Linked DNA regions of Homo sapiens. The protein of the gene in region 3 purifies or fractionates together with the protein of the main gene of each other region. This does not show direct contact. Each region holds a gene or a part of one and is shown on either strand. Other genes may lie near its edges.

Region 1 (6,077 bases), on a different chromosome or scaffold from region 3:
CCTAGTGTCAAACTCCTGGGCTCAAGCGATCTGCCTGCCTCAGCCTCCCAAAGTGCTGGGATTACAGACATGAACTACCATGCCCGGCCATATGTTTTGTTTTGTTTTGTTTTTTGAGACAGAGTCTCACTCCGTCACCCAGGCTGGAGTGCAGTTGTGCGATCTTGGCTCACTGCAACCTCTGCCTCCTGGGTTCAAGCAATTCTGCCTTAGCCACCTGAGTAGCTGGAATTACAGGCATGCGCCACCACGCCCGGCTAATTTTTGTATTTTTAGTAGAGACAGGGTTTCACCATGTTGTCCAGGCTGGTCTTGAACTCCTGAGCTTAGATGATCCACCTGCCTTAGCCTCCGAAAGTGCTGGGATTCCAGGTGTGCACCACCAGCCCCCTGGCCCTATGTTTTTATCATCATTGCATACCTGGCTGCTTGCTATCTAGTCATTGTTGGTTCCTAAACGGCCATTACTTATGTAGCTATTAAGTATTTGTGAAGAATCTGGAGTGTGGGGTAGTGAGGTCTGCATTCCATGTTCACCCCTTTCTGGGGTCAGTTAAAGATGGAGCTGCCTGGCACAGAAGTAATATTTGGTGAAAGTGCATTTGCTTTTTCCTAGCACAGTCTGTCATTCAGGACCATGTGTGTGACTGCTTAAAAGGGATAAACCTATGTAGTCAGCTTGTCTGCCTTAAAGTTCTCTGTTCCTTGGATAAAGGAACTTGCTGCAGATGAAGCTGAGGCTTTTGTGTGTGATGAGAGTCTCTCCTCCCAGCTGGCCCTCTCCTCCTCCATCTCCTTGACTGGGTCCGGCTCCATGTGTGCGAGGTGGACAGTTTGTCGGCAGATGTTCTGGGCAGTGAGAATCCAAGCAAACATGACAGCTTCTGGAACTTGGTAAGACAGGCCGGGCCCCCACCTCCCACCATGTGTCCTACTGTCCCTGGTGCTGCCGGGTGGGTCTGAGGACACCCACTGAGCCTCCAGCAGTAGGCTGGCTTTTGGAGTCTGTTACTATGGAGACTCTTTTGGATCTTTTCTTCCCTGCTCTATGGGAGAGTCTAAAACCGAGGTACCATGTAAGAAAAATAATGCTTTGAAGACTTTTCCAGGGTAAAAGGAAATTTGATTTCTTTGTGGATCTAAGGAAGAGAAGACACAAAAAGGAATACAAAACCGTTTTTTTTTTTTTTTTTTTGAGACAGGGTCTCGGCTGGGTGCGGTGGCTCATGCCTGTAATTCCAGCCAGCACTTTGGGAGGCCAAGTCAGGAATCTCTTGAGCCCAGGAGTTTGAGATTAGCCTGGGCAACAAAGTGAGACCCTCCATCTCAAAACAAATTAATAAATAAAAATATAAAAGAGAAAAGATAGTCCGACTCTGTTCCCCAGGCTGTTGTGCAGTGGCCTGATCTTGCTCACTGCAACCTCCGCCTCCTGTGCGGTCCTACCACCTCAGCCTCTCAAGTAGCTGGGACCACAAGTGCCAACCACCATGCCTGGGTAATGATATAAAACCAATTGACAGGGGCTGGGGTGCATACAGGGTTGGATGTAAATGAGCTTGCACATTACTTTGGATCATCAGTTTCGAAGTCAGCATGTCGTATATGTGTATATGGATGTATTTTCTATGTGTTAGGTATTTCCATTCACCTCTGCTGACTGACCCAATTGGGAGGTGGCAGGGAGGAGATCGCTAGTTGACTGGGCTAATGGAAAGTCAACTAAACTTATAAAGCCTGAAATTGGGAACAGATTGTGAGGACAAAAAAAAAGAAAAGAAAAGAAAACCTGGAATTCGGCCCGGCACGGTGGCTCACAGGAAGTAGTGGGCCAAATGTTTGAGTCTCTGATTGATTCGCTAAGGTTTGTTGTTGTCGTTTAGAGACAGGGTTTCGCTTTGCGGCCTGGGCGGGAGTGCAGTGATGCGATCATGGCACAATGCACCTTTGATTTCCTGGGCTCAAGCAATCCTCCCACCTCAGCCTCCTGAGTGGCTGGGACTACAGGCGCACACCACTACGCCTGGCTAGTTTTATTTTTTGTAGAGGTGAGGTTTCACTGTATTACCCAGGCTGGTCTTGAACTCCTGGGCTCAAGCAATCCTTCCACCTTGGCCTCCCAAAGTGTTGGAACTGCAAGTGTGAGCCACCATTCCTGGTCATTCACTGAGTATTTATTGAGTCCCTACTATTTGCAAGGCACCAAGGAGACACCATGACTAAAACAGGCAAAGATTCCTGCCTTTATGGAGTTTATATCCTGTGTGTGGAGAAAGAACAGCAACACATAGGCTAGTACCATGTATCCTGGCACATAGTGAAATGCTCTGCCAAGGTGCCAAGAAGGGAGGGAGGCTGCAAGTGCTGGAGGGGCATCGAAGAAGGCCTCCCTCATGAGAGATTGGAGGTGAGACCTGAAGGAGGTGAGGAGAGCTAGGCTGAAGAAAGCATTCCAGATAGCAGGGCCTGTAGATGCTGTGTTCTAGAGCCAGGGTGGGGCAGGAGGGGCTGTGCTATGTAGGGGTAGGTGGGAGGGATGAGCTGGGGAGATAAAGACAGAGCGATACCAGGCCAGGTCTGAGACAGCCCCCTGGGCTGTCACTGAGACTTTAGCTTTTTGCAGCCTACATAGCAGGGTGACTAACAACATGGTCTGTGGTGCCACACTGCCTGGGTTAGCATTCCAGCTCTGCCTTTTACTAGCTGTGAGGTGGGTTTTTTTCCTTTTTTGAGACAGAGTCTCTCTCTGTCACCTAGGCTGGAGTGCAGTGGCGCCATCTCAGCTCACTGCGACCTCTGCCTCCGGGGTTCAAGTGATTCTTCTGCCTCAGCCTCCTGAGTAGCTGGGACTACAGGCGCGCGTCACCATGCCCAGCTAATTTTTGTATTTTTAGTAGGGATGGGGTTTTACCATATTGGCCAGGCTGGTCTCAAACTCCTGACCTTGTGATTCACCCACCTTGGCCTCCCAAAGTGCTGGGATTACCAGCATGAGCCACCATGCCTGGCCTTTTTTTTTTTTTTTAAATACAGTTTCACTGTGTTCCCCAGGCTGCAGTGCACAATCACCAGTCACTGTAGCCTTGGCCTCCAGGTCTCCAGTGGTCCTCCTACTTTAGCCTCCCAAGTAGCTGGGACCACAGACATGTGTTACCACCACCAGCTAAAGTTTTTATTTATTTATTTATTTTTTGAGATGGCGTCTTTCTCTGTTGCCCAGGCTGGAGTGCAGTGGCGCTATCTCAGTTCACTGCAACCTCTGCCTCCCTGGTTCAAGCAGTTCTGTCTCAGTCTACCAAGTAGCTGGGATTATAGGTATACGCCATGATGCCCAGCTGGTTTTTGTTTTGTTTTGTTTTGTTTTTTGTATTTTTAGTAGAGATGGGGTTTCATCATGTTGGTCAGGCTGGTCTTGAACTCCTGACCTCAAGTGATTTGCCTGCCTCCCTCCATCCCACCATCCCAATTTTTTTTTTTTTTTTTTTTTTAGCTGGAGTCTCGCTCTATTGCCCAGGCTGGAGTGCAGTGGCACGATCTCGGCTCGCTGCAAGCTCCGCCTCCCGGGTTCATGCCATTCTCCTGCCTCAGCCTCCCGAGTAGCTGGGACCACGGGCGCCTGCCACCACGCCTGGCTAATTTTTTAATTTTGTTTAGTAGAGACGGGATTTCACCATGTTAGCCAGGATGGTCTCGATCTGACCTTGTGATCTGCCTGCCTTGGCCTCCCAAAGTGGTGGGTTTACAGGCGTGAGCCGCCACGCCCGGCTAACCCAATTATTTTTTATTTTTATTTATTTATTTTTTGAGGCAGAGTCTCACTCTGTTGCCCAGGCCAGAGTGCAGTGGGGCGATCTCAGCTGGGATTATAGGCTCTCGCCATCCTGCCTGGCTCATTTTTTTATTTTTAGTAGAGATGGGGTTTTGCTGTTTTGGCCAGGCTGGTCTCGAACTCCTGACCTCAAGTGATCCGCCTGCCTCAGCCTCCCAAAGTGCTGGGATTACAGGCTTGAGCCACCATGCCCAGCCAAATTTTTTTATTTTTTGAACTCCTGGCCTCAAGCAGTCCTGTTGCCTTGGCCTCCCAAAGTATTGGGATTACAGGTGTGAGCCACTGTGCCCGGTCACTAGGTGTGAGATCTTGAGTGAGCTACTTAACGGCCTTAAGGGTCCTCATCTGTCCAGTGGAGATAATAATACCTGTCCCATGGGGCTGTTGTGATCATTAAATTAGTTAAAGGACATAAATGTGGGTGAAGTAGTTGACACGGTTGATGCACAGTAAAAGCTAGTCTTTTACTTCTAAGCCATATGGGGTGAGGGGGCATTGGAGAGCTGAGCAGAGGAAGCCTGAGATCTTACTTAGGTTCCCAAAGGCTGTCCTGGCTGCCATGTTGAGACTACAGCAAGGATGGAAACAGGCCAGTCTGGATTCTGCTGTACTAAGCCAGGTAAAAGATGGTGGTGGTGTAGGCTAGATATGTTTGAAGAGAGTTGATGGGGTTTGCTGATGGATTGATTTGATGTGGGCATGCAAGAAATAGAAGAATGTGGGAGGATAAGGTTGGTGAATTGGAGGCAAACTGGTATTTAATTTTAGACATGTTTCTCTCGTGTGTGTGTGTGTTTTGTTTTGTTTGTTTGTTTGTTTGTTTTGAGACAAAGTCTCTGTTGCCCATGTTGGAGTGCAGTGGTCAGATTACAGCTCACTGCAGCCTTGACCGCCTAAGCTCAGGTGATCCTCCCCTCCTAAGCCTCCCAAGTAGCCAGGACTACAAAGGCGTGCCACCATGTCCAACTAATTTTTGTATTTGTAGTGGAGACGGGGTTTTGCCATGTTGTCCAGGCTGGTCTCAAACTCCTGGGCCCAAGCAATCCACCCTCCTTGGCTTCCCAAAGTGTTGGGATTACAGGCGTGAGGCACCATGCCTGTCCGACATGTTACGTTTTAAGATGCCTATTCAAGATCTAAGTGGAGATGTTGACTAGGCACTTGGATATACAAAGCTGGAATTCAGACAAGGAAGTTTGGGCTAGAGAGGAAAAGTTGGGAGTTATCAGTATGTATATGTTTATATATTTGTGATTTTTTTTTTTTTTTTTTTTTTTTTTTTTGAGATAGAGTTTTGCTCTTGTTGCCCAGGCTGGAGTGCAGTGCCTTGAATACTGAATTAGTGAATATTGAACCATTGCTCCTAGGGGAAATACAGGGTTAGGTTCCTGCAAGCCTCTGGTCATATTTTGTTCAACCAATCAATATATAACCGATCACTTGTTTTATGTGTGTATCTGTTTGGAGACAACTTACTTGACATAATATTGTTGAATCATTAACAGTGAAGTCAGCCAGGCGCAGTGGCTCACGCCTGTAATCCCAGCACTTTGGGAGGCCGAGGCGGGCGGATCATGAAGTCAGGAGATCAAGACCATCCTGGCTAACACAGTGAAACCCCGTCTCTACTAAAAATACAAAAAATTAGCCAGGCATGGTGGCAGGCGCCTGTAGTCCCAGCTACTCGGGAGGCTGAGGCAGGAGAATGGCGTGAACCTGGGAAGTGGAGCTTGCAGTGAGCCGAGATCGCGCCACTGCACTCCAGCCTGGGCGACAGCAAGACTCTGTCTCAAAAAAAAAAAAAAAAAAAAAACTCAGGGCCAACAGCACTATAATTCGTGTCTGAATGAAGCTTATCTAACACCTCCCATAGTTCTTGCACTTAGCAACACTAGAAAGCACTTCAGTACTACACGTGGGGACCCAAGAAAATGTACAAAAATGAAAAAAATGTGGCACTAACTGCATCACGAGAAAGCCTTGTTTAGTGTGTGTCAAGCAACTCAATATTCTTGCCACTCTTAATTTTGATTTGAAAGTACCACAAATACTGATTTGGGGGTTACAGATAAATTTTAGTGAGTAGGCAGATTCACAGATAAAGACTGAACAGTGAAGACTATTTGCATTGAGTGTATATTTTATGTTATGTTATGTTATTTTTGAGATGGAGTCTCACTCTGTCACCCAGGCTGGGGTGCAGTGGCGTGATCTTGGCTCACTGCAACCTCTGCCTCCCGGGTTCAAA
Region 2 (6,077 bases), on a different chromosome or scaffold from region 3:
TACTATAATAAAATTTAAAAGGCTCTACATAACAATGGAAGACTGTTTCCTTTTATATTGTTTTCCTGTAACCATCAAAAACTTTCTATTTCTAATAATTTTACACGAAACTGGATTTGGGTAAGTCGGGGCAGAGCACTGAACTGGATATTGTGAGAATATAAACAGGCCGATTTATGCTGACAAGGCATCCAATTGCAGATGAAAGGGACTCGGGAGTGTGGCTTTCCTCAGATGGAATTTAATGTTATTCTGACTGTTCTCCTTTCCAGTATAATGTTTGCCTTGGAATAAGACTGGAAACAATAACTGCCGACCAGTGCAAAAAGATTAAATTCTTGGGCCCTTTGATTTACCTGCCAGACACCACTCACCTGATAGCTGTTGGCATCCAGCCTGTAAGCAATCGTTGCATTACTGAACTCTGTTTCAGTTCCACGACTGACACCATACCTGCAATGATATCCAAGGCACCTCTTGAACACACTTAGAGAAACCCAAAGGCAAGAATGATGTAACCATGAACAAGGTCTTTATAATAGGCAACAGACTTCCGTATTTCTGTACTAACAAAGGTTTAGGATGTAACTTTCCTGCATATATCACACCTAAAATATTTTGAATCATTATTAGATCCATAAAAATAGCATTTTTATACTTCTCATGGAAATTTTTGCCTTTTACAGACAGTAACCCATATTGCCACCCGGCAGAATCACTTCATTCTTTCTAAAACAATCACTAGGTACCTTTCATGTGCCAGGCACAGTTCTAGATGGTAGTGACATAGCAGTAAACAAAACAAATTTTAAAACTCCTGTCCTCCTGGAACTTATATTCCTTTGGGGGAAGGGGAGAAGCAGAGACAGTTAAATTAAGTAGAATGGTAGTAAGTCAGAAAAATAAGACACAAAAGGAGTACAGAGAGTGCCAGGATATAGGGAGGGCAGGCAGGGGCACTGCAATTTTGAAAAGGATGGTCAGGGAAGGCCTCAACAAGGTGACATTGAGTAAAGACCTAAAGGAGCTGAGGGAATGAGCCAAGCTAGTAGCTGACAATACCAAACAAATGCCTTGTTGAAGTAGGGGTGTTCCTGGCATATTCAAGGAATTACAAGAAGGCATGTGGCTGGTGAAGAGGGGAAGAGTGAACAGATGAAGTTGGAGACAGCAGTGGGTCACTCTAGGCCAGTGTAAGGACTCTGGGTTTATTCAGCATAACATGATATATTTGAATCCCACCTTGGGTCATGTTGGCCAGGTGCCGTGGCTCACACCTGTAATCCCAGCACTTTGGGAAGCTGAGGCAGGCGGATCACTTGAGGTCAGGAGTTCGAGACCAGCCTAGTCAATGTGGCAAAACCCCATCTCTACTAAAAATTCAAAAATTAGCCAGGTGTGGTGGTGGACACCTGTAATTCCAGCTACTTGGGAGGCTGAGACATGAGAATCACTTGAACCTGGGGGGGGCGGAGGTTGCAGTGAGCCAAGATGGCACCACTGCATTCCAGCCTGGGTGACAGTGAGACTCTGTCTCAAAAGAAAGAAAGAAAGGCCAGGTGCGGTGGCTCAAGCCTGTAATCCCAACACTTTGGGAGGCTGAGGTGGGCAGATCACAAGGTCAGGAGTTCGAGACCAGCCTGGCTAACATGGTGAAACCCTGTCTCTACTAAAAATACAAAAATTAGCTGGGTATGGTGGCAAATGCCTGTAATCCCAGCTGCTCAGGAGACTGATGCAGGAGAATCGCTTGAACCCAGGAGGTGGAGATTGCAGTGAGCTGAGATCATGCCACTGTACTCCAGCCTGGGCGACAGAGAGAAATCCCATCTCAAAAAAAAAAAAAGAATAAAAGAAAAGTTGTGTCATGTCACTGCACTACATAAAGGACGGCTTTACACAGTGCAGTGACATGACCCAACTTGGGTTTTTCTTTTTGAGATGGAGTTTCGCTCTTGTTGCCCAGGCTGGAGTGCAATGGCACGATCTTGGCTTATCGCAACCTCCACCTCTTGGGTTCAAGCGATTCTCTTGCCTCAGCCTCCCGAGTAGCTGGGATTACAGGCATGGGCCACCATGCCCAGCTAATTTTGTATTTTTAGTAGAGACGGGGTTTCTCCATGTTGGTCAGGTTGATCTCCAACTCCCAACCTCAGGTGACCCACCTGCCTTGGCCTCCCACAGTGCTGGGATTATAGACGTGAGCCACAGCGCCTGGCCCTTGGGTTTTAAATATATCAGTCCACCTGAGAAGTGTCTGAAGAGGGTTAAGACAGATCTGGGGAGATATATAGAAAGCTAATACAATAATCCAGGCAAGACACAGTGGCAACTTGGTGCAGGGTATTTAATGTCTTTGTTTCAATTAATTTAATTATAATGTTATAATGCCTCCATCTCAGGGCAGACAATTAGGCAACCCATCTCTACTACAAGATTTAGAATAGGCTGTCTTATACTTGTCTATTTGTTTTTCCGTGCTCCAATATGCTTTATAGTTCCTTATCCACTGTATAAAAGTAAAGCATTAGGGACTCATTAGGCAAGCAATAATGAATGACCAGTTCCGGGGCAGTAGAGATGCAATCCCTGCATTGGATGACGAGGTTGAACTGTTTCAATGTTAACATTCCTTGTTTAAAGTTAAATCCATGCTCAGTTCCCATTCTTACCAGGTATGTCATAAGGAGGTAGCTTAAGAACAAAGATTCCCCCAGAAGCACATGGTAAGGCAAACAGGGCCTCCCCATCACTGCTGAGCCAGGCTGTAGAGGCGGTGGAATTAGGAGATATTCCAGGTACTGCTGGAATTAACTGATAGTTGCAAGGATCTGTGAAATCAACTTTTCCAATGTCAGTGAATATTGACTGCATCTGACTGTCAACTACCAACTCCTGTTGAGTAATTAAAAAGAAAAATCTATTAAATCAAAATAACCAGAATTTTGCTCAGTTCCTCTCTATTGCTAAAAAAGTTTTTAAAGTAAAAAACTGTCAAGTTTAAGAAAGCTATTCTTCTTAATGAAAACTAATTCTCAACTTAAAATGTATGCCTGATCATTTTAAGCGGTAGCTATCAAAGTATGCTTGGTGAGGGATAACGAGAATCCAAATTTCCTTCAATTCCAAAAGACATCGCTCCAGCACTACATTTGTGACACCCAGAGTAATTTGGGAAATAAAAGATATTGCACTTAGCCAACTTACACTCCTATACATCCGGGAGGGGTGTGGTAAAAGTAACCTGTGCACTGTTTGATTGGTTAACATCAAGATTATCACACGATTCTGAGTCTCAGAGACATAAACCCCTCCAGGTAAAACACTGCAATTTTGGAATTTTAGGCGAATGGCATTATTCAACAGATTTATGTCCAGTGACTCCTCCATCAGCTCCAATGTATCTCCAGAGGTCTTCCTGTTGAAAAAGAGACATTTGTTTGAAAAGTTTATGCTTTTCTCACTGACTGTTCTACTGAAATATATGAGAACAGTGTCCAAGTGAACTCACCAAATTTGAAAATTTTGGATAAACAGATTTGGACCACTTTTGCATGCCAAATCACATTATGTACATTTATAAAAAACAGCATAACAAAATCCAAATTTCACTGTGATTCTGTTACATAGAGACATTTCCAAACTTGATAGGCCATTTATTTAGGACAATATTTTATGCAATTAACTCTACTATAATAAAAATTAACACCATACCCCGGCCATTGCTTGTAGTGGAATGTGGCCTCCATATATACTACAGCATCAAACAAAACTGACCTTAATAATTGCGGTTATTTCCTGTTTCTATTACTTCTTAACCTGCAATAGCATGCATGCGCACACATATACACACACACACACAGAATAGCAATTTTATACATGCGCTTACATGTATGTGCAAAAATATTACAAAAATAAATATTTTAATATAAAAATACCTTCGCAAATTGAACATATCAGGGTTAGTTTCTATACTAAGCTATTCTAACTTTCATTATTACTCCTCAAAAGGAGCTTGTTTATTTATTTTTTTCTTTTTTCCCCCACCCTCCCCAAAAGGAGCTTGTTTATTAATCCCAGCTGAGGAGCAAGGAGCCACTGGCAGCCACAGATCTCACTGCTGCACAGGGTTTTTAGAACTTCAGCCATAAAAATGGGCAGAATTTTCCTTGATCATATTCGTGGTACCTGTCCATTTTCTTATGCAAACTGTGATACAATCCTGACCAACCGCTCAGAATTCATCTCCACTTGGTTCACAGGCGCCACTGGCAGAGCATTTCTTTTTAACAAGGTAGTGAACCTGCAGTACAATGAAGCTCTAGATTGGGTCATGCTCACTGGCCACCACATGGTCCAACATGTGAGCTGAAAAACTGCAGCAGCAAACTGGGATGGATCTACGAGTTTGCCACCGAAGACAGCCAGTGTTACAAGGAAGGCCATGTGATCCTGGAACGTGCTCTAGTTCGAGAGATTGAGGGCTCTAAGGAGCATGTACCATCTGATAATTTTTGTTTGTTTGTTTGTTTTTTTTTTGAGACAGGGTCTCACTCTGTCAGGCTGGGGTGCAGTGGTGCAATCATAGCTCACTACAGCCTCGAACTCCTGGGCTCAGGCAATCCTCCCACCTCAACCTCCTCAGCAGCTGGGACTACAGGTGTGCACCACCACACCTGGCTAATTTTTGTATTTTTTAGTAGAGACGGGGTTTCACCATGTTGGCCAGGCTGATCTTGAACTCCTGGCCTCAAGCCTCCCAAAGTGCTACCTGCCTCGGCCTCCCAAAGTGCTGGGATTACAGGTGTGAGCCACCACACCTGGCCCTCTTACTTGACTCTTAGCAGCATTCCACATGATTACAGGTGTTAGCCACCATGCCTGGCCCTCTTACTTGATCTCTTAGCAGCATTCCACATATGTGACCTTGCCTTCCTTTTTAAACAGTCTCTTCTCATGAATCCTATGATACTACCCTCTCCCAGTTTTCCTCCCACATTCCTGTCCATTTCTTCCCCTTCTCCTTGACCTGACCCCTATATGCTAGATTTCCTCAAACCTTGATCCTGGACCATCTTCTCTCACTGTACACTTTCTCCCAAGGCACATCTTATCTACTCCCAAGGATGTAAGTACCTTTTCAGCGCTGATGATTTCCCAGAGCTACTTTGCTTCTGGTAACTCACGGCATCAGCACAATTTTCTGGATCCTCAACCTCATCTCTGAATAATTCCTTCGCTTTCCTGCCTTACGGTTAAAGTTGGATCCTGGATCTCCCGTGAGGACAGTGACCCCAGAGTTTTCTCTACCATGCCCTTTGGGGTGGGGCCTCAAGGAAAACATACAGATGTCCTTGTTCCCCACTGGCATTCTAGGCCACTGTTCCTCCTCTGCTACCCGAATCACTCAGCTCTGAAGCTCATGGAATCAGATACCACCTGCTACCCATGCTCACTGCAGTTGATTTTAGCTCCTGGCCCACTGTCACTCTCTCCCACACTACTCTCACCATAATTCTTAATGATTTCAGTATCAGGGCCAGGTACAATAGCTCATGCCTATGATCCCAGCATTTTGGGAGGCCAAGACAGGAGGATTTCTTCAGCCCAGGAGTACGAGATCAGCCTGGGCAACACAGCAAAACCCTATCTCTACAAAATAAAAAAATTAGCCAGGCATGGTGATGCCCGCCTGTAATCTCAGCCACTTGGGAGGCTGAGATGGGAGGATCGATTGAGCCTAGGAGTTCGGGCTGCAGTAGGCCATGACTGTGCTATTTTACTCCAGCCTGGGTGACAGAGTGAAACTCTGACTCTAAAAAAAAACAAACAAACAAATGAATAAACAATATCCAATTATCCTAACACTCTACCTTCTCAGTTCCCCAAATTCCTTTCCTCTAGTGATTGCTCTCAACTGCATCTACTAGGTCATTCCCAACTGCACATAGATATATTATTATATTTTCTCTGTTCCTCCCTTGCTCTCTGGTTACCATGTGATTTCTCTGCTTCCCTTATAGCAATACACCTTGGAAGGGCTATTCTATACTCACAATTCCTCTCCTCCCTTTCCC
Region 3 (5,757 bases):
TAGTATCACGGCAAAACTCCAAGTAGCATTTTAAATAGTATTTATTTGGGTTGGAATTATTTCTATGCATTGACTCATCTTCCTGGGTTTCATTAGCTGTACGCATTGTACTTTCTTCCTTACCACTATTTATCTCGAATTCTTGAGATTAAAGTACAGATGAAATCTAAACTTTATCTGGTAAAGTTATTAGTTCTTACAAGTAGCAAGCAAACGGTAAACTAAATAGGATGACCTAATTGTACCAGATTTAAAAACAAAAACAAAAAACCCTGATTCTCCTGATTCTCTCTACAAAATGCTAACATTTAAATATGTCATTTGTAAATTGTTAACCAGAAGGAACATGGGAATGACTGTAGGTTGAGTTTGAAGTGTGAAGTTTGAAGGCTTAGTTTGCTTGTTTTCAAAGTGACAGAAGGGAGCAAAAGGTTATATAAACTCCGGTGGGTACATACAGTTGCTGTGGGATATTGACCTGCTGCTAACTTACCTGCCAGGGTTTTGCCAGGAACAGTCAGTGTTAGATCACGTTTACTTCTGCCACTTGCCACCAGCCACACTGCCTTCACCGAGTCCAAGACCCTATCACCACTGGTTGGGGCTACTTGTAGCTGTACACCTGATCTCGAAGAAATATAACTTCCCTGTTTAAAGCCCTTCCTAGTGCCCTTAAAATAAGACCCAAAGACTTCCCAAATGTGCCAGGGCCCGGCATTATTTACGTAACCCCCGGCTGCTGTTTGCTTGGCTTGCTAAACTTTTCTACAAAGTTTCTGGCCTTACTTCTGTTCCTTCACCACCCCAAGCACACGCCCTCCTGCCTGGGACCCTCTTCACCTTTGTCCTGCTGTGCCAGCTCCTTCTTATCGCCTAGGTGTCAGCTCAATCATCACCTCCTTTGCAAATCTTCCTTGACCCCTAGACCTCCCTTTCACAAAGTACCTTGAGTTTACACTTTGATGAGTGTCTTATGTCTACTGTAATACTATGTCCCAATGAAGATGTACTGGCAATCATAATACGTAGTATTGGGTTAAAAGCATTAGTTTGCTGTAGGTACGTTAGGAGTACTCCCCATGTGATTGATCAGTGAATTTAAAAATGGCTAAAGTGGGTAACCTTAAATGATGGTGCAAATATACCTTAAACATTTTATATTTTCATTGAAAACACAAGTGTACTTGACACCTCTTGATGTAGAGCAGAGGCTTTTTTTCTTCGAATATGGGGTCACCAGTAGAAGGTCTCTGGTGCATTTCCTGCATAAACTATGCTCTAGTGCAACATCTACAATAATTACTTTCCTTATTTTTGAAGTGGACCATATCTCGACATTTATTAATCAATCTGCATGTGTAAAACCTTTAGATTTTTATGAATTCCTCCTCAAGCTTTATAGTCAACTATATGAGTGGATTGCCCTCTGTGGATCTGATAGCAATTTTTTAAATGATTCACGTTTCAACTTGTTAAAAACATTTAATTTAGTTAAAAACCAAACAAAAAAGAGCTTTGTTTCTTTTCACATTCATTTCTCAGTTTAGATCATCTTTAATTAAATATAAATGTAAGAAAGTTGGAAAATGCAAAGAAACGACTCGTTGTAAGCACATAACTCACGTGGGGGGAACAGACATGGGTGGGCACACTAGCAAACACCTGCCAGCTGCATGTGGACCCAGGTGGGCACCGGACTGTTTTAAACACAGGAGAGGGCCCATTGTCTAACTGGTGAGTTGGTTGAGTGGAAGCTGGTTGAGAACTTTTACTGCAAACCATTTACAGTAGACCACAATTTTATAGTCCTGTTTGGCACTTTTTCATATCACTGGGAGCCTGAAGAAATAGAAGTGGGTTGGATCTCTTTCAGCCTCGGAAAAGCCTGCCATTCCCCCATCTAAAAACCCTTTCCCCATTCTCTTACTCTGTCTCATCATGTATGTAACATGTATCCATGTATCATCAAGTGATCTCATTTTATATTGTTTACTTGAATATTTCCTGTAACCCCCCTGTCTGATTCCACTAGAATGTGAGCTCTATGATGGCCAAGCCTCTGGCTGCACTGTGCCCCGTGTGTCCCCAGCATCCTGGTGGGGCTCAATACACAGAGAGCTCATAAGTAGCATTTGAATACATGAATCAAAGTATGGAATGGCCCAGTTTACTGCAGCCTTTTTGCAGGTGCAAAAGATGATCTTTTAGAAAGCAGAAACAGGGGGTCTGGTGCATGAGATCTTTTTCTCAATGTGACTGTGCTGTGCAGACCTTCACGTGGTGTCTTGTGAAAGACTTTGACCACTGTGTGGACTTTCCTTCAGTGTATCTTTCAGAGTGCAAGACTGGGAATGGAAAGAACTACAGAGGGACGATGTCCAAAACAAAAAATGGCATCACCTGTCAAAAATGGAGTTCCACTTCTCCCCGCAAACCTAGGTCAGACTTTTCCTTTCATCTTTGTGTTCATCTACTGTAAAGTGTCCGTCTGTGTCTGTGAGGGATTGGTTCCAGGACCCCTGTGGCTACCAAAATCCATGCTTCTCAAGTCCCTTATGTAAAATGGTGCAGTATTTGCATATAACCTACATACCTTCTCTTGTGCAATCCCTAATATAATGTAAATGCTATGTAATCGTTGTTATACTGTATTGTTTTTATTTGTATTATGTTTTATTGTCATATTGTTATTTTCTCTCATCTTTTTCAAGTCTTTTCCATCCACAGTTGGTTGAATTTGTGGATGTGGAACCCATGGATACAGAGGGCCAACTGTATTTAGGATAATTTCATCACTTTTAATTCAAACCAGAATATGTGAATAAGCAGACAGAAAGAATCTTTTTGATGTCGATGTTCAACTATTTTTGGCACCATAGTAGAACATGGTTGCTTTCTATTTTTTCTTGGGTATGGAGGTTTCTTGAAGACCTAGAACATAGAAGAATGCCTAGTTAAAAAAAAAAATCAATGAAACTACGAGTTTTAGGCCAAATCTGAGAAAAGACCAAAGATGACTATGTTTGGGACTGAAGTAAACATATCAAGTTAGAACTCTCATCACATGTTTGACTCAAATTGTGGAGCAAAATAGTAAATAAAATATAAAAATGAAAATGAAGATACGTGAAATTCAAATGTCACAACTTGCCTATTATTTATTTTAGTGCATTTTTTTGTGCTTTTCCCAGTTTGGTGTTAGGTGGCCTTAAGTTCTCAGTAATGACACTTATCAAATAGGAACTTAGTGTTACTCACCTTTATCCATTCCCCCAACACTCAACAAATTGCCTTTGCTATATCCCTATGAGATGAGCAGATCAAATATTCCCCGTGAGTTAATGAAAACTGATTCAACCAAATGGCGAAGTCAGAGACTATCGGGGGCCATGGAGACACTCTGGGCCATTTTTATGAGGTAGTCTAGGCTCATCTTCATGAGGGAACTGAGGTCTTGGGGGGTGGGGGTTACCCAAATAGGTTCACAGAAGAACCAGAAATAAAACCTGCCTTTCTAGACTGTAAGTCTTGTGATTGTCATCTAAATGGTTGTCTCTATACAGCAACTCATCTCTAGAACTGAAAATAAGTTTAAATCCCTCCTCCATCCCCAATAATTCAAGCTGCATTTCAGAGAAAACCAGGACTTTGGAATCAGACAGATCAACTTTGACTTCTTGATCTGCTTCTTCATAGCTATTTATGCTTAGGCAAGTTTTGTTTTGTTTTGTTTTACGTTGCCACTCAGTCTTCTCATCTGTAAAACAGGGATAATAACACCTTCCTCAAATGGTTTTTTTTATTAGGACTAAAAGAGAGAATGTGTGGAAAGATGTTAGTGGAATTCCTGGCACATAGTTCACATGGACAAAATGGTGTTAACTACGAAAATTTTTACAGAGAAAAGGGCAACTGACAAAAGCAGGTGTTTGGAATGAATTAAGACCATGGCAGGCTTTTGAGGCCTTTATATTTCTCCTGACTGTGCAATAAAAATATTTTGGCTCTCTGTCTAAGACTTGGCTGTCACAGTAGCAATGGTAATATTAGCTACTGTGCCAGAAGCAGCCTATCAATAGAGAAATTGAAAATCTGACCACACAAATGCTGCAGCACCCAGCTGAAATGCATTTGGATGACAATCTCAGATGGGAATCGAGAGCATCTCCTTCTGCCTTGCTAATAGCAAGCTGATTTTTAGAATATAGTCTAAGTGCTTCTCTTCCATCCTCCCCAGATTCTCACCTGCTACACACCCCTCAGAGGGACTGGAGGAATCCAGACAACGATGCGCAGGGGCCCTGGTGCTATACTACTGATCCAGAACAGAGAGATGACTACTGCGACATTCCTGAGTGTGAAGGGCAGGAGTGGCTCTAGAAAATGTTTTCATTTCTGCCCTTCACCTGTAAAATAATTTGTTGTAAAGCCCCTTCCCACAGGGATATTATTAATAATTGCGTAACGTGTTCACCTCTCGGAAAGGAGCAAAACTTTGCTCAGATCCCAGAATTAACCTGATTTTTTTTTTTTTTCTGAGACAGAATTTTGCTCTCATTGCCCAGGCTAGAGTGCAATGGTGCGATCTCAGCTCACCACAACCTCCGCCTCCGGGTTCAAGCGATTCTCCTACCTCAGCCTCCCAAGTAGCTGGAATTACATGCATGTGCCACCATGCCTGGCTAATTTTACATTTTTAGTAGAGACAGGGTTTCTCCATGTTGGTCAGGCTGGTCTTGAACTCTCGACCTCAGGTGAGCCGCCCGCCTCAGCCTCCCAAAGTGCTGGGATTACAGGCATGAGCCACCATGCCCAGCAGACCTGAATTATTATTATTAAAATGTTACATCAACATGTACAAATATAAAACTACATCTAAACTCTAAGTACAGACTTCTTATGCTTAAAACTCTTACACAGTGTTAACCCCAAGACAGATTTGCAATTAAGTAGTTAAAATAAGACAACAAAGTCAATAAAAATCAAATAAACAATATACATTTAATGTGGTAGACTTTGCTGTTTTGCTGAAGCTAAGCAAGGAACCAGTTTTTAAATCAGCAATCCGTTATTTTAATGGACTGAGCAATTTAATAGTGCACCTCAAAGGTCAATGATAAAAACTAAAAAAAAAAAATACCTACTGAAAAAACTGTCATCGTTTCACATTTCTGGCTACGTTAGTGCAAAAGGGAATAAATAAAGGTGAGATTTGTGTGACAGTGTGGATATGGTACTGTGTGACAACTCAGTTCTCCCATCACTTCCACCTGTTTGAATCATCGGGATCCTTTATTTGTACACCATGTTATCGGTATTTGCCCTTAAGCACCACCAATGCACCACTTTTATATTAAGTCTGCCCGTTTTCCTTAGTACTCCATAAAATTTAAGTCACATATTACTCTGCCTCACCATGTTACTTCAATAATTCTGAATCAAAGTTTAAGTTTGTGAATAATTTTGCAAAAAAAGAGCCAATCATGCTTCTCAACAACATAAAAAGAGAAGCGCCGTCACTTCAGGTGAATATTGTTCTCCGTGAGGCCATGAGCATAAACAAAAACTCCAGACTAAAACCCTGAGACGGTGCCAGGTCATTCAGCAGTCAGCGGAATGATCAGTATAATTTCAAACAAAGTTTTAAAGATCATTATTGAAATGATGTATTTTGAGCTTCCTGGATCTGTTCCTTTATGTCTACCTTAGTTCATTTGGGCTGCTGTGACAAAAATATCATAAACTGGAGAGTTTATA
Region 4 (6,077 bases), on a different chromosome or scaffold from region 3:
GGGTGGCTCACGCCTATAATCCCAACACTTTTGGTGGCTACAATGAGCTATGATTGAGCCACTGAATTCCAGTCTGGGCAACAGAGCAAGTCCCTGTCTCAAAAAAAATAAAAATAAAAATAACCCTCAGATAAACATTCATTGGTCACCTTTGGAAGCTGCTAGGATATCAACTCAATACTGAAAATCAATAAATAATTCAGCATTTATCTTGTTTTTCCTGTATGAATTGAATTTCAGAGAAACCAAGTAGATGGCAAGGCAAATGTCTTCATAAAAGAATCGTGACTAACCAATGCAGAACAACTAAGATTAGAAAAATCCCCATTTAGAAACCCCTTAATGAAATAAAGATCCAGGTATGGTCACTGCTGGATAAAATCACTAGGTGAAAAAGTCAATAAGGAGCTTGTAAATGGATGGGTCAGGTTGACAACACCCAAATATGATAAATAAGTGAAAGTATGGGGGAAAGAGGAAGCAACCAGCCAAAATCCAGAATAGTATATTCTATAGGACAAATGACCTTCAACAAACGACATAATAGTGGCAGTGTGGGATAGGGTTGTGGAACTTGAGACATTTCAACCAAGTGGGTGGCCCTTGCCTGGATCCTGATTTGAACAAACCTATTATGTATAAAAGACACTTCTGAGACAGTTGGGTGAAATTTAACATAAACTGGGTATTAGAGGATATTAAAGTTCATGTTGTTGGATGTTACATTGGTATAACATTAATAAAAAGTTAGAAAAAACATCACCACCCTCTAAAATTGAACTTGCAAGATAGTGAGGGAAACCCTCATCAAAGTAGAATACCAGATCAGGGTGCAGGTGCTGGCTACTCCACAGCAACAATCAGTGCTGACTGGGAGGAGGCCCAAGCGCACAGCAGGACAGACCTGATCAGACCTCAAATAAAGCCAGAGCCCATCAAAGGGCTATACGCGCAGGAGGAGGGTGTACCAGAGAAAAAAATTACTGTGGAGGCAGACAGTAAGGAAACTTTCTGACTTGCTTAACACTAGTGGAAGGAGATTCTAGTGGAAGGAATTCTCATTAGTGAGAATTCATATAGCCACTGGCTGACCCTCATGAGGTTTGGAGTCTGAATTCACACTATTTGGAATAGTCTGAAAAACCTCTAAGTCTTTGATCCAGTAATCCCATTTCAAGGACTATTTCCCTAGTTAGATGTAACTGAAAAATACAAAATGATGTATGTACAAAGTTAGTCAACGTGGCCTTGTTTGTGACTAAAAAAGTGTGGAAACAATCCAAGTGTCCAGTAGAGGGAACTGGTGGATAAATTTTGGTGCAGCTACATAGTGGAGTCTAGGCAGACCTAAAAATAATGATCTCTGTATGCTGATAGGGAGGAATCTTAGGGATTTTTTGTGTGTTGGTTTTTTGAGACAAGGTCTTACTCTGTCACCCAGGCTGAAGTGCAGTGGTAGGATCACGGCTCACTGCAGCCTCCACCTCCCAGGTTCAGGTGATCCTCCCACCTCAGCCTCCTGAGTAGCTGGAACTACAGGTGTGAGCCATTACACCCAGCTAATTTTCCTATTTTTTGTAGAGACAGGGTCTCACTATGTTGCCCAGACTGATTTTAAACTCCTGGGCTCAAGCAATCCTCCTGCCTTGGCCTCCCGAAGTGTTCGGATTATAGGCATGAGCTACTACGCCCAACCAGTTTAGACCTTTTAGTCACCTTTTCTTTTTTTTTTAATCAGCTTTCTCAGGTTAAATTAATCACCCGTTTTTTAAAAAACTTAACTCAAAAGCTAATAATTAAAAATGGAACCAGGTGAGCAGTGCCTCAGATACCTGCAAAACCTTTCTGCACAAATGTGCTCCCTGCCCTAGAAGACAAAAGGGATTGGAATGGAGAAGCCTACAACCACCCACGGGTCCTGACAAGGCTGACGGGTGGTAATCGCACCTTGGAGGCAAAGCGTAGAGAGTTGAGGGACTCGGAGACGTTCTCTTCCAGTGGAGAAATGTTCACAAACATGAGCCTATGAAAAGACAATGTGCCCAACCCCAGCATTAGGGGCCAGCAGAGCCTGGACAGGTCTCCACTGTTCCCCTTTCTACCCCTCACCCCAACACAGTTCCTACCTGACCCCTTCCATCTGTCCCTTTCACTCACATCTTAGCACTACCACCCAGAGAGTTCTGCAGCAGGTAGGTCAGTTTGCTGTTCCGGTAAGGCACGTGGGACTCCTAGATGATTGAGGTGGGGACAGATGTTTAGGAATAGGCAGGGTTCTGCACAGCCAACCCCAACTGTCCCCCAGGTCCCGTATCTCACCCCACTCCCATTCCCACCTTGTTGCTCAGGGCCATGATAACCAGCCCCAGCGTGGACAGGCTGCTGTTAATGGCCTGTGTTTCCCGAAGGCGTTCCCGCTCCCCGGGGCCGAGGGCTAAGCCGGGGTCAAGTCGCTCACTCCCGGCCAGGTCCACAAGACTGAGGGGGGCCCCACACTGCAGGCCTCGGCTGGAGTGCTCCCCAGAAATCTGTAGCTGGAATACACTGTGGCTGCGTGATGACCGTTCATTCTGGGCTGTGCGGGCCACAGCCCGATTCTGGCGGGCCAGATGAAGCAGGGCGTCCACCTGGGGATGGGAGCAGAAGGGGCAAAAAGGCAGGCAGAAGTCAGTACATAGTAATATGTATGGAAATGAATAAGAGCCCACCCCCACCCTCTTGAAGCTTTCTAGCCTGTCAAGAAACAAAATAAGATGCACAGTATGTCTGAAAATGGTAAGGAATACATAGAATAGGGAGTGTATAAAGGCGGGGTGGGGAACACAAGTTTTGACAGGATAGCCAAGATCTCCAGGAAAGAGCATCCAGGCAAAGGCCCTGAGATGGGGAGCACGACTAGCTGGTTGAGGAACAGCCAGGAGGCCAGCATGGCTAGGATGAGCTGAGCAAGAAGATGAGACATGAGATGTAGTGACCCTCCTCGTTTTGGCAGATGCATCACTCCCTCGCCACTCCCAGGTTAAGGCAGATCTACCGACAGCCCACAGGCCAAAACCGGATGTGGTAACCCAGCCTGATAACTTGCACTTCATCCTTCAATTCTCTCTTGCTCCTTTCTCCCTCTACCTCCATCTCGTGGCACCCTGCCCACTCCTCCCCATTTCCCAGTTCCAGTGCCCATGGGTCCTCACTTCTTTCTCACAGGAGACAGGGACATATCGAGCATTGGTGACAGTGAGCTCCTCACTCCCTGGCCCTGCACGGCGAATCTCACACTCGCCCCCTTGACCCTTCCGGGTTCCAGTGGCCAGCAGGTCCCGGACAGTCTCATTGTAGATCTCTACGTAGCTTGCTACAAAGCTGTAGGTCCAGCCCTGACCACTCAGCTCCTGAGCCACAGAGAAGAGGTGCCGCAGGGCCCGAGGGATCAGCCCCTCCAACTGGGGGTCTCCCCCAGGCCCACCCTCCATTGTGAAGGTCTTGCCACTGCCTGTCTGGCCATAGGCAAAGATGCATACTGGATAGCCATCCAGGGCTGACTGGACAAGCATGGCAATCTCTTCAAACACTTCATCCTGTCCACTTCCTGGTGGGAATACCCGGTCAAAGGAAAAATCATGGCGAGTTGGGGGAGCTGGTGCCCCACTCAGGGTCCCACGCCGCTCGTCAGACCGGGAGAGGCTAAGGCGGGTTGGAGGATCAGAGGGCCCACCAGGGCCAGAGGGAAACAGGAGGAGGCCAGGGGGTGGAGTGGGCTCCCCCGGCAGGACAGGGCGGACCCGGCAGAATACACGGATGTTGCCCTTGAGTTCCTGCAGCTGGTTGTGCAGTCGCCGGCGCTCCATTTCTAGCCCATGAAGACGTTCTTCCCGCTCAGTCAGTAAGGCTGCCTGGGCCACAGTCTCCTGCCGCAGAGATGCCACCTCTGCTTGGCTGCTTGACAGGGCTGCTTCTGATGTCTGCAGCCTCCTCTGCCCAGAAGAGAACACAACATACACAGAGGGTAAGATGCAACCAAGAAGAAGAACAAACTGTGGGGCGTATGGAGTGGGTGGAAGTGAGGTCCCTGCTCAAAAGGACCTCAAAGTCTGGTAAACAAAGAAAGATGAGAAAATAAGGAATCATGGTACTAAGACAGGGAGTGCTATGGGTATGTCCAAGCACAAAGAGGAGCACAAGGAAGATGATATCTAGGGTGACACCCAGAAGTACAGGAGTGAACCAAGGAAGGATGTAGTATACAAAGAACATTCCAGAAAGAGGGAAGCACATATGCAGAATGCCCAGAAGTGAAAGTTGAGTCATTTAAGAGACTGCAAATAACTTAATCTAGTTGGTGCTCACCAGGAAGGAGTCAAGTGGACATGGGAGGAGGGAAAGAGAGTACCACAGGAATTTGTGATCAGGATGGGAACCCAAAGAAAGAGGGATGGAGGACTAAGAAAGACACAGATCTAAATGAGAGCTTTGCAAACAGTCAAGGGTAGGAAGAAGCGTGGCAGAAAGCAAGACAGTCAGGAGTGGGCTGGGGTGCAGACAGGTCAAGAGAGAGGTATCTTCAGCAGCACCTATACTGCTAAAGATAGGTGCTCAGGAGTTCTCAGCCCAGACTTGAGGGGTACCTGGAAGGGAGGGGAGGCATGACCTCTGCCAGGAAAGCGGGGCTGACATCTGGTGAAAATCTGGCCCTTACCTCCTTCTCCTCTAGTTGGGACATCAGTCCCCTCCGTTCTTCCTGCAATTCCACCTGTTTTTTCTGAAGCTCTTGCACCAAGCCCTCCTGCGTGCTCAGCCGCTCTTCCAGCTCCAGGACACAAGCACGCAAGTTCTTCAGCTCCTGTTGGCCCTGCTCAGCCTGGGCCTGTACCTTGGCTAAATGCCCCTCCAGTGTTGTGCGCTCTGTCCCCAGGGCCTTGACCTGCTGCTGGGCATCTCTGAGCTGGTCCTGAAGCTGCTGGTTCTCTTGGTCCAACGTTTGAGTCCTCTCACGGCACCGTTTTAGTTCTGCATTTAGGTCACATAACTGACCCTTTAAGTCCCAGGCTGGACGTTTGCTGGGTTTCTTCCCTCCTGCCATGGGAGGAACACCTGATGCTAAGATGAACACAGAAAGGACAAAGGTCAGTGAAGTCTAGGCTCTCTATCCCTCCTCCCTTCTAGCCTTTATGGGATCCACACCTGATGCTACATCTCCTTCCCCTTAGAGACCAAATGGATTTTTCTGGTCACTCACCATCTTCTCTTCCCTATCCCAGCCTCTCACCCAGTGGTTATGTTTGTCACTTACTGCCAGACTTCTGGACAGGAACAGCAGGAACTGGCTTCTGGTTCTTCAACCCTACAGAATTGAGGAGGTGACTTAGGAATTACAGGACCAGTGTCCCTCCACCTCCATCATTCTCCCTTTACACATACCCCAAATCCCTTCTCAGACCCAGCTCTTGAGCACAGTTACCTGTGGCAATAGCTGTGGAACACCGGGGTCCTGTCTTCTTGGAAACTTTTTGAGCTGCCCAGGAGATGGGAGAGAGCAAAGGTAGAATGATCATTCTTAAGATGGCATGTACACTTGCTAGGACAGGGGCAGAAGAAGTGCTTTTCTCAGAATTAGAAATAGGATAACTTCCTTCCCTTATCCCTAAGTCTGGCCAGCTCCTAATGATACCTCCCCTAGAACCAGAAATTACAGTCATCCCTCAGTATCCAAAAGGGGTTGATTCCAGCACCCCCCAAGAATACCAAAATCCAAGGATGCCCAAGTCCCTTACATAAATAGGTATATAGTATTAAATATAGTCTATGCACACGCTCCCATATACTTTATTTATTGATTGACTGAGACAGAGTTTCACTTGTTGTCCAGGCTGAAGTGCAATGGCATGATCTCAGCTCACAGCAAACTCTACCTCCAGGGTTCAAGCGATTCTCCCGCCTCAGCCTCCCGAGTAGCTGGGATTATAGGTATGCGCCACCACGCCCAACTAATTTTGTATTTTTAGTAAAGACGGGGTTTCACCATGTTGATTAGGCTGGCCTCAAACTCCTGACCTCTGGTGATCTGCCTGCCTTGGCCTCCA
Region 5 (6,077 bases), on a different chromosome or scaffold from region 3:
AAAATAGTCTTGGGATCTCATAAAATTAGAGTTGAGGCCAAGCGTGGTGGCTCACGCCTGTACTCCTAGCACTTTGAGAGGCTGAGGTGGGTGGATCACCTGAGGTCAGGAGCTTGAGACCAGCCTGGACAACATGGGGAAACCCCGTTTCTACTAAAAATACAAAAAAATTAGCCTGGTGTGGTGGTGCATGCCTGTAGTCCCAGCTACTAGTGAGGCAGGAGAATGGCCTGAACCCAGGAGGCAGAGGTTGCAGTGAGCCGAGATCGTGCCACTGCACTTCAGCCTAGGTGACAGAGTGAGACCCTGTCTCAAAAAAAAAAAAAAAAAAAAAATGGAGTTGAGATGGAAGGCAATGAATGATACACCATTTTGTTTCATCAGGGATTTTAAAATCAATATTCAGTCTCAATTATTTCTTTAAAACTTCAGTCTCAATTATTTCTTTAAAACTAATCCAGAAAAGAGATTTCTTGAACAGTTAAATGATTAATAACATTTTAATCACCTTTGTTGAGCCTAATACTCTTACATAGTCAATGACGTAGGGCATTGTTCAAGGCCCCTGCTAACACGTGTCACTTGTATGTGAATTAGAAAATTGTAATTCTATCTGGGAACGGTGGCTCATCCCTATAATCCCAGCACTTTTGGGAGGCCGAGGAGGGCAGATCACGTGAGGCCAGGAATTCGAGACCAGCCTGGCCAATATGGTGAAACTCCGTCTCTACTAAAAATACAAAAAATTGGCCGGGCACGGTGGCTCACGCCTGAATCCCAGCACTTTGGGAGGCCAAGGCTGGTGGATCAGAAGATCAGGAGATCAAGATCATCCTGGCCAATATGGTGAAACCCTGTCTCTACTAAAAATACAGAAAACTAGCCAGGCATGGTGGCACGTGCCTGTAGTCCCAGCTACTTGGGAGGCTGAGGCAGAAGAATCACTTGAACCTGGGAGGCGGAGGTTGCAGTGAGCCGAGATTGCGCCACTGCACTCCAGCCTGGCAACAGAGCGAGACTCTGTCTCAAAAATAAAAATAAAAATACAAAAAATTAGCCGGGTGTGGTGGCTCGCGCCTGTAATCCCAGCTACTAGGGAGGTGGAGGCAGGAGAATCGATTGAACCCAGGGAGGCGGAGGTTTCAGTGAGCCAAGATTGCGCCACTGCACTCCAGCCTGGGCAACAAAGGGAGACTCCGTCTCAAAAAAAAAAAAAAAAAATTGGAATTCCCTTCCCTTACATAGATAGGTTCCATGGCAAGTGCACACAATATGTAAGACAGAACACAGGCTAGATTTCAGCCCCACTTACTTGCTTGGCCAGCCACCCTTGTACAAGGCACGGCTGTACACAATAGCCCTAGCATTATGTGCTGTTTTCGTATAGCTACCCCTCAAGTTTTTAAATAACTGGAATAGTCCCCTTAGTGTTGGGGCTGGTGGCACAGAGGAATGGCAGAGAGAATGGAGCAGGCAGGTCATCTTTACCTACCTTTCACTACCTCTACCTCTAGCACATTCTAGTCCAAGCCTCTACTGTCTTCCGTGGCTTCTCACTGTTCTTTATACAATCGTTCCTTATACAGATGGACTAGTGACCCTTTCAGAATAAAATACATGCGACTGTCTTACCCAGAACTTTCTGATGCCTTCTTATTGCACTTGGAATAAAATCTTTCTTTTCTTGATGTACAAGAGTATACATACTTTTGTTTTGTTCTTTTTTTTTTAAACTAACCCCCTAATCTTGTGTCCTACTGCTCTCCCATCACTATATCCTGGCATTCTGGGCCTCTTCATTGGTTCCCCTCTGCCTAGAATGCTCCTTCGCCAAGATAGGTGCATGGATGACTTTGTACTTCTTTCAGCAGCTGCTCAAATGTCATCTCTTTCAAGAACCTCTCCCCAACCCAACCACCCTATTTAAAATAGCATGTATGCATGTGTATACACACACACACACCTGTCCCTTTTAATCTCCATATCCTACATTAGTTTTCTTCATAGCACTTAGCACAATCTGATATAAAACATATTAATTTATTTGCTTTTTGTATGTCTACCCTCATTAGAATATAACCTTCATGAAGGGAGTAACCTTGTTTTCTTTATTTCTTTGACTCTGGCACTTAAAATAATGCTGAGCACATGGGAGGCTTTCAGTGGTACTTAGTAAATGAATGATACTGCATTACTGAGGTGAATGTACTGTCTTCAGATTAGGAATAGCTGTAATATCAGTTCCAATCAACTCTTGCTATCAACACATATTAGGTAATGAGTTTTTCTCACATGTAAGGCACTACATGGGGGGGCGCGGTGGCTCACGCCTGTAATCCCAGCACTTTGGGAGGCTGAGGTGGGCAGATCACGAGGTCAGGAGATCGAGACCATCCTGGCTAACACAGTAAAACCCCATCTCTACTAAAAATACAAAAAATTAGCCGGGTGTGGTGGCGGGCACCTGTAGTCCCAGCTACTCGGGAGGCTGAGGCAGGAGAATCGCGTGAACCCGGCAGGCGGAGCTTGCAGTGAGCTGAGATCGCGCCACTGCACTCCAGCCTGGGCGACAGAGCGAGACTCCGTCTCAAAAAAAAAAAAAAAAGTGGAAATATCCCTAGTGGAAATAATCCGTCTGTTTTACATATTTACCGGCTATTTCAAAGCTTTTGTTCATTCAGATGAGAAAAATGTCTTCAGTTGTAGCAGAGCTGTTTATTTGCTTTTCCTTGTAGCAATTTGCTGGGTCTGTCAGCCATTACCCTGGATAGTTGCTGGCAGCCCGCCCGCTAGTATCGGAATTCATTATAATTAGCAGAAGAGATTGTCTGCAGCACACTCTGATATTATGGCAGCAAAAGGATTTAGTAAAAGCAAGTCTGGGTCCATCCTGTGAGATAAGAAAGTAACCTGCTGCTTTTCGGGCAACAAGGAGTCAGAAGCCAGGGGCACCCGGCCTCTTTAACATAGACAGAAAGACTACATTGGAGCACAAATGGAAAGGTCCAGAAAGAAGCAGTTCTCTTATTCTTACTGGGTTCTAGGTTGGGATCACTAATATGAATTACAAGTAAAACCTTGAAGCATTTTAAATCCACCTCTGAAGGTAGCAAGTATCTATTTGAGAAAAGAAATAAAGGTGCTTCCCTTGTAAAGAAGCACTTTAATATTTGCTTTTATGTATTTATGCTTCAAACAAGACCAAAATATTGATAGTAATTTTTCCTATGTTTGGAAACCTGACCTAGATTAGCCCAAATTAGTACAATTACTCCTTGGTATAATTACCAGATTATACTTTGTTGTTGATTAACCCCTCCACTTACATGTCCATTTGAAAAATGTTTTAGCAATTTAATATAGCCTCTCACATGAAGATACTTTTAGGTATTCCATTAGGCTTTTCAAAGGAGCAGTTATTATTTTAGCTTGTCCTGTTTTTTTTTTCTACACTATTAGTGCTATTGATTTCCTTCCTATTTTTAAGATTATTTCAGAAATTGTAGTGTGTAATTTCTGTAATCCCAGCACTTTGGGAGGCTGAGGCAGGAGGATCACTTGAGCCCAAGAGTTCGATACTAGCTTGGGCAACATAGGGAGACCTCATCTCTACAAATAATAAAATTATTTTTTTTTTTAAATAGAAAAATTAGCCGGGCATGGTGGCACATGCCTGTGGTTCTTAGCTACTTGGGAGGCTGAGGTAGGAGGATTGCTTGAGCCCGGAGATCAAGGCTTCAGAGAGCCATGATTGTACCACTGCATTCCAGACTGGGCGACAGAGTGAGATGCTGTCTCAGAAAAGAAGAAAAAGGTTAAAAAAGAAAAGAAAAAAAAAAGAAATTATGTGGTTGGTTACTTTCTAATTATTTTAATTTTCAAATTTTTTGTAAGTAAATGTAGTGGGCATAAGAGGTTTACTCTTTTTTCTGTACTTTTACTGTTCACATCGATTTTAAGAAAGATCCATGTATGTATAAAGGAATGCCAATTGTTTTTTCTGCTTGTTTTCCTTATATATCTGTTCTGACTCATTAATTGTATTATTCAAATCTATAGGTTCTGTTTTTCTGTTTTTAAAAATTATATAAAGAAATTATAAATTCCATTTTCCATGTGTATAAGCAAAGTAGTCTGCAATGAAGTTGACCCTCCCTGTGTGCCCCTCCCCACATCGTCTTTTTCCCAGCAACAGTCATTGCTGTCAGTCTGTTGTGTCCTCTCAGGCCTCCTTAGAGCTATCTTTATTTATATGTATAAACATCCAAAGGAGTGGTGATTGTTTTCTGTTCTGATTTTTGCTCTAATGATATTCAGTTTCCAACTCATTCTTTTTATGCATGTTTTTATTCAGGACATAGTAAGTTTATTAGAAATACAAATGCAGAAGCATTTTATTTTCACTGTCATACCTCTCTGTAGTCTACGTTGTTCATCTTCATACTTTTTTGCTGTTAAATCTTGTCTACCAATTACATTCTGGGTTTGATTCAGTACCTGGCTTTTCTTTTTGTAAGGATCTTTAGCTTAAATTGTTAAAATGATTTATTGATGTCTGTTTGTAGGATGCCAAAGAAGACCATGAAAGAACACATCAAATGGTCTTACTGAGAAAGCTTTGTCTGCCAATGTTGTGTTTTCTGCTTCATACGATATTGCACAGTACTGGTCAGTATCAGGAATGCCTACAGTTAGCAGATATGGTATCCTCTGAGCGCCACAAACTGTACCTGGTAAGTTCTAGAGCCTTGTAGTTTTAAATTTTAATGATTTGATATGCTCTGTAGTAATATTAATTTTGTGAAGATGTGTTTACATTTGTAATTGCTCTTGGATTTTCTTAAAGTAATAGTCCAGTTTTAATGTTTTAATGTTTGTACTTTTTTCCCAAAATGTGTGTATATTTGTAAGCAGTTAGAAATATATAGACTGACTCTGAGAATTCACCTTGAAATTCCTGAACCACTCTAATTTACTAGGCTCTGGCTACATAAATCTTAAAGAGGCATTTCTTCTTATATGAAGCTAATCAGATCGATTAGGTAACTAAGTTCATACTTGTCTACTTGTCTTTGTTCTCATTCTTATTTCTCTTTTTAAAAATCAGGTATTTTCTAAGGAAGAGCTAAGGAAGTTGCTGCAGAAGCTCAGAGAGTCCTCTCTAATGCTCCTAGACCAGGGACTTGACCCATTAGGGTATGAAATTCAGTTATAGTTTAATCTTTGTAATCTCACTAATTTTCATGATAAATGAAGTTTTTAATAAAATATACTTGTTATTAGTAATTTTTTCTTTTGCATTACCATGTAAAATTTAGACATTTGAATTTTGTACTTTTCAGAATATTATCGTGACACTTTCAACATGTAGGGATATCAGCGTTTCTCTGTGTGCTTGTTAATAAAACTATATAAAAATTAAAATTTTCTGTTTTTACAAATTCCAGGGTTGTCTCTTTTTCATGTAATAAGAAAATTAAATTTTCTGTTCTAGTTTTTTCTGTAATCATAAGCATTCTGATATTTTAAAATCATAAAGATGATGGAAAGTAGATTTATTTTTAAGCCAGGTACGTAATTTTTTATTTATCATAAAATTTAGTATTTTTGAATATTAAAATTAAGAAGATGACTATAACAAGAATTTTTCTAACATAACATGCTATTATTATTTTAGTTATTTTGAAGACATTTCTAGTTTAACTTTCATTTAGCAAACTTCCTATCAAAATAAGAGCATATAAAGACTTAGCGTAGTACCTGGCACACAGTAAGCACTGAATATATTGGAGATTACAGATCCCGCTCTTCTAATAGGGGAAATACCATAAGTACATTTAAAAGGTGTCATTTAAAAATACAAGTAGTGGCTGGGTGCAGTGGCTCACGTCTGTAACCCCAGCACTTCGGGAGGCCGAGGCAGGTGGATCACCTGTCGTCAGGAGTTTGAGACCAGCCTGGCCAACATGGTGAAACCCTGTCTCTACTAAAAAAATACAAAAATTAGCCGGGCATGGTGGCAGGTGCCTGTAATCCCAGCTACTCAGGGGAGGCTGAGGCATGAGAATCTCTTGAAC

What was found.
Region 1: the proteins of RGPD1 (region 3) and NUP85 purify together in Homo sapiens (affinity purification with mass spectrometry; one large-scale study listed by BioGRID and IntAct). This does not show direct contact.
Region 2: the proteins of RGPD1 (region 3) and NUP160 purify together in Homo sapiens (affinity purification with mass spectrometry; one large-scale study listed by BioGRID and IntAct). This does not show direct contact.
Region 4: the proteins of RGPD1 (region 3) and KIFC1 purify together in Homo sapiens (affinity purification with mass spectrometry; one large-scale study listed by BioGRID and IntAct). This does not show direct contact.
Region 5: the proteins of RGPD1 (region 3) and NUP107 purify together in Homo sapiens (affinity purification with mass spectrometry; one large-scale study listed by BioGRID and IntAct). This does not show direct contact.

The regions. Positions count from the first base shown.
Region 1 is NC_000017.11:75,217,413-75,223,489, forward strand, and holds part of NUP85 (nuclear pore complex protein Nup85), read left to right. Parts: intron 1-772; coding exon 773-894; intron 895-6,077. UniProt on the Homo sapiens protein: Essential component of the nuclear pore complex (NPC) that seems to be required for NPC assembly and maintenance. As part of the NPC Nup107-160 subcomplex plays a role in RNA export and in tethering NUP96/Nup98 and NUP153 to the nucleus.
Region 2 is NC_000011.10:47,837,171-47,843,247, forward strand, and holds part of NUP160 (nuclear pore complex protein Nup160), read right to left. Parts: intron 4,518-6,077; exon of another isoform or gene 4,074-4,517; intron 3,419-4,073; coding exon 3,208-3,418; coding exon of another isoform or gene 3,058-3,207; exon of another isoform or gene 2,896-3,057; coding exon 2,673-2,895; exon of another isoform or gene 2,331-2,672; intron 454-2,330; coding exon 375-453; intron 1-374. UniProt on the Homo sapiens protein: Functions as a component of the nuclear pore complex (NPC). Involved in poly(A)+ RNA transport.
Region 3 is NC_000002.12:87,009,687-87,015,443, reverse strand, and holds the end of RGPD1 (RANBP2-like and GRIP domain-containing protein 1), read right to left. Parts: intron 5,221-5,757; exon of another isoform or gene 2,932-5,220; coding exon 2,897-2,931; 3' UTR 1,468-2,896; downstream 1-1,467.
Region 4 is NC_000006.12:33,402,746-33,408,822, reverse strand, and holds part of KIFC1 (kinesin-like protein KIFC1), read right to left. Parts: intron 5,510-6,077; coding exon 5,456-5,509; intron 5,339-5,455; coding exon 5,288-5,338; intron 5,095-5,287; coding exon 4,694-5,094; intron 3,972-4,693; coding exon 3,192-3,971; intron 2,628-3,191; coding exon 2,337-2,627; intron 2,232-2,336; coding exon 2,158-2,231; intron 2,024-2,157; coding exon 1,948-2,023; intron 1-1,947. UniProt on the Homo sapiens protein: Minus end-directed microtubule-dependent motor required for bipolar spindle formation. May contribute to movement of early endocytic vesicles. Regulates cilium formation and structure.
Region 5 is NC_000012.12:68,737,248-68,743,324, forward strand, and holds part of NUP107 (nuclear pore complex protein Nup107), read left to right. Parts: intron 1-4,565; coding exon 4,566-4,733; intron 4,734-5,107; coding exon 5,108-5,215; 3' UTR 5,216-6,077. UniProt on the Homo sapiens protein: Plays a role in the nuclear pore complex (NPC) assembly and/or maintenance. Required for the assembly of peripheral proteins into the NPC. May anchor NUP62 to the NPC. Involved in nephrogenesis.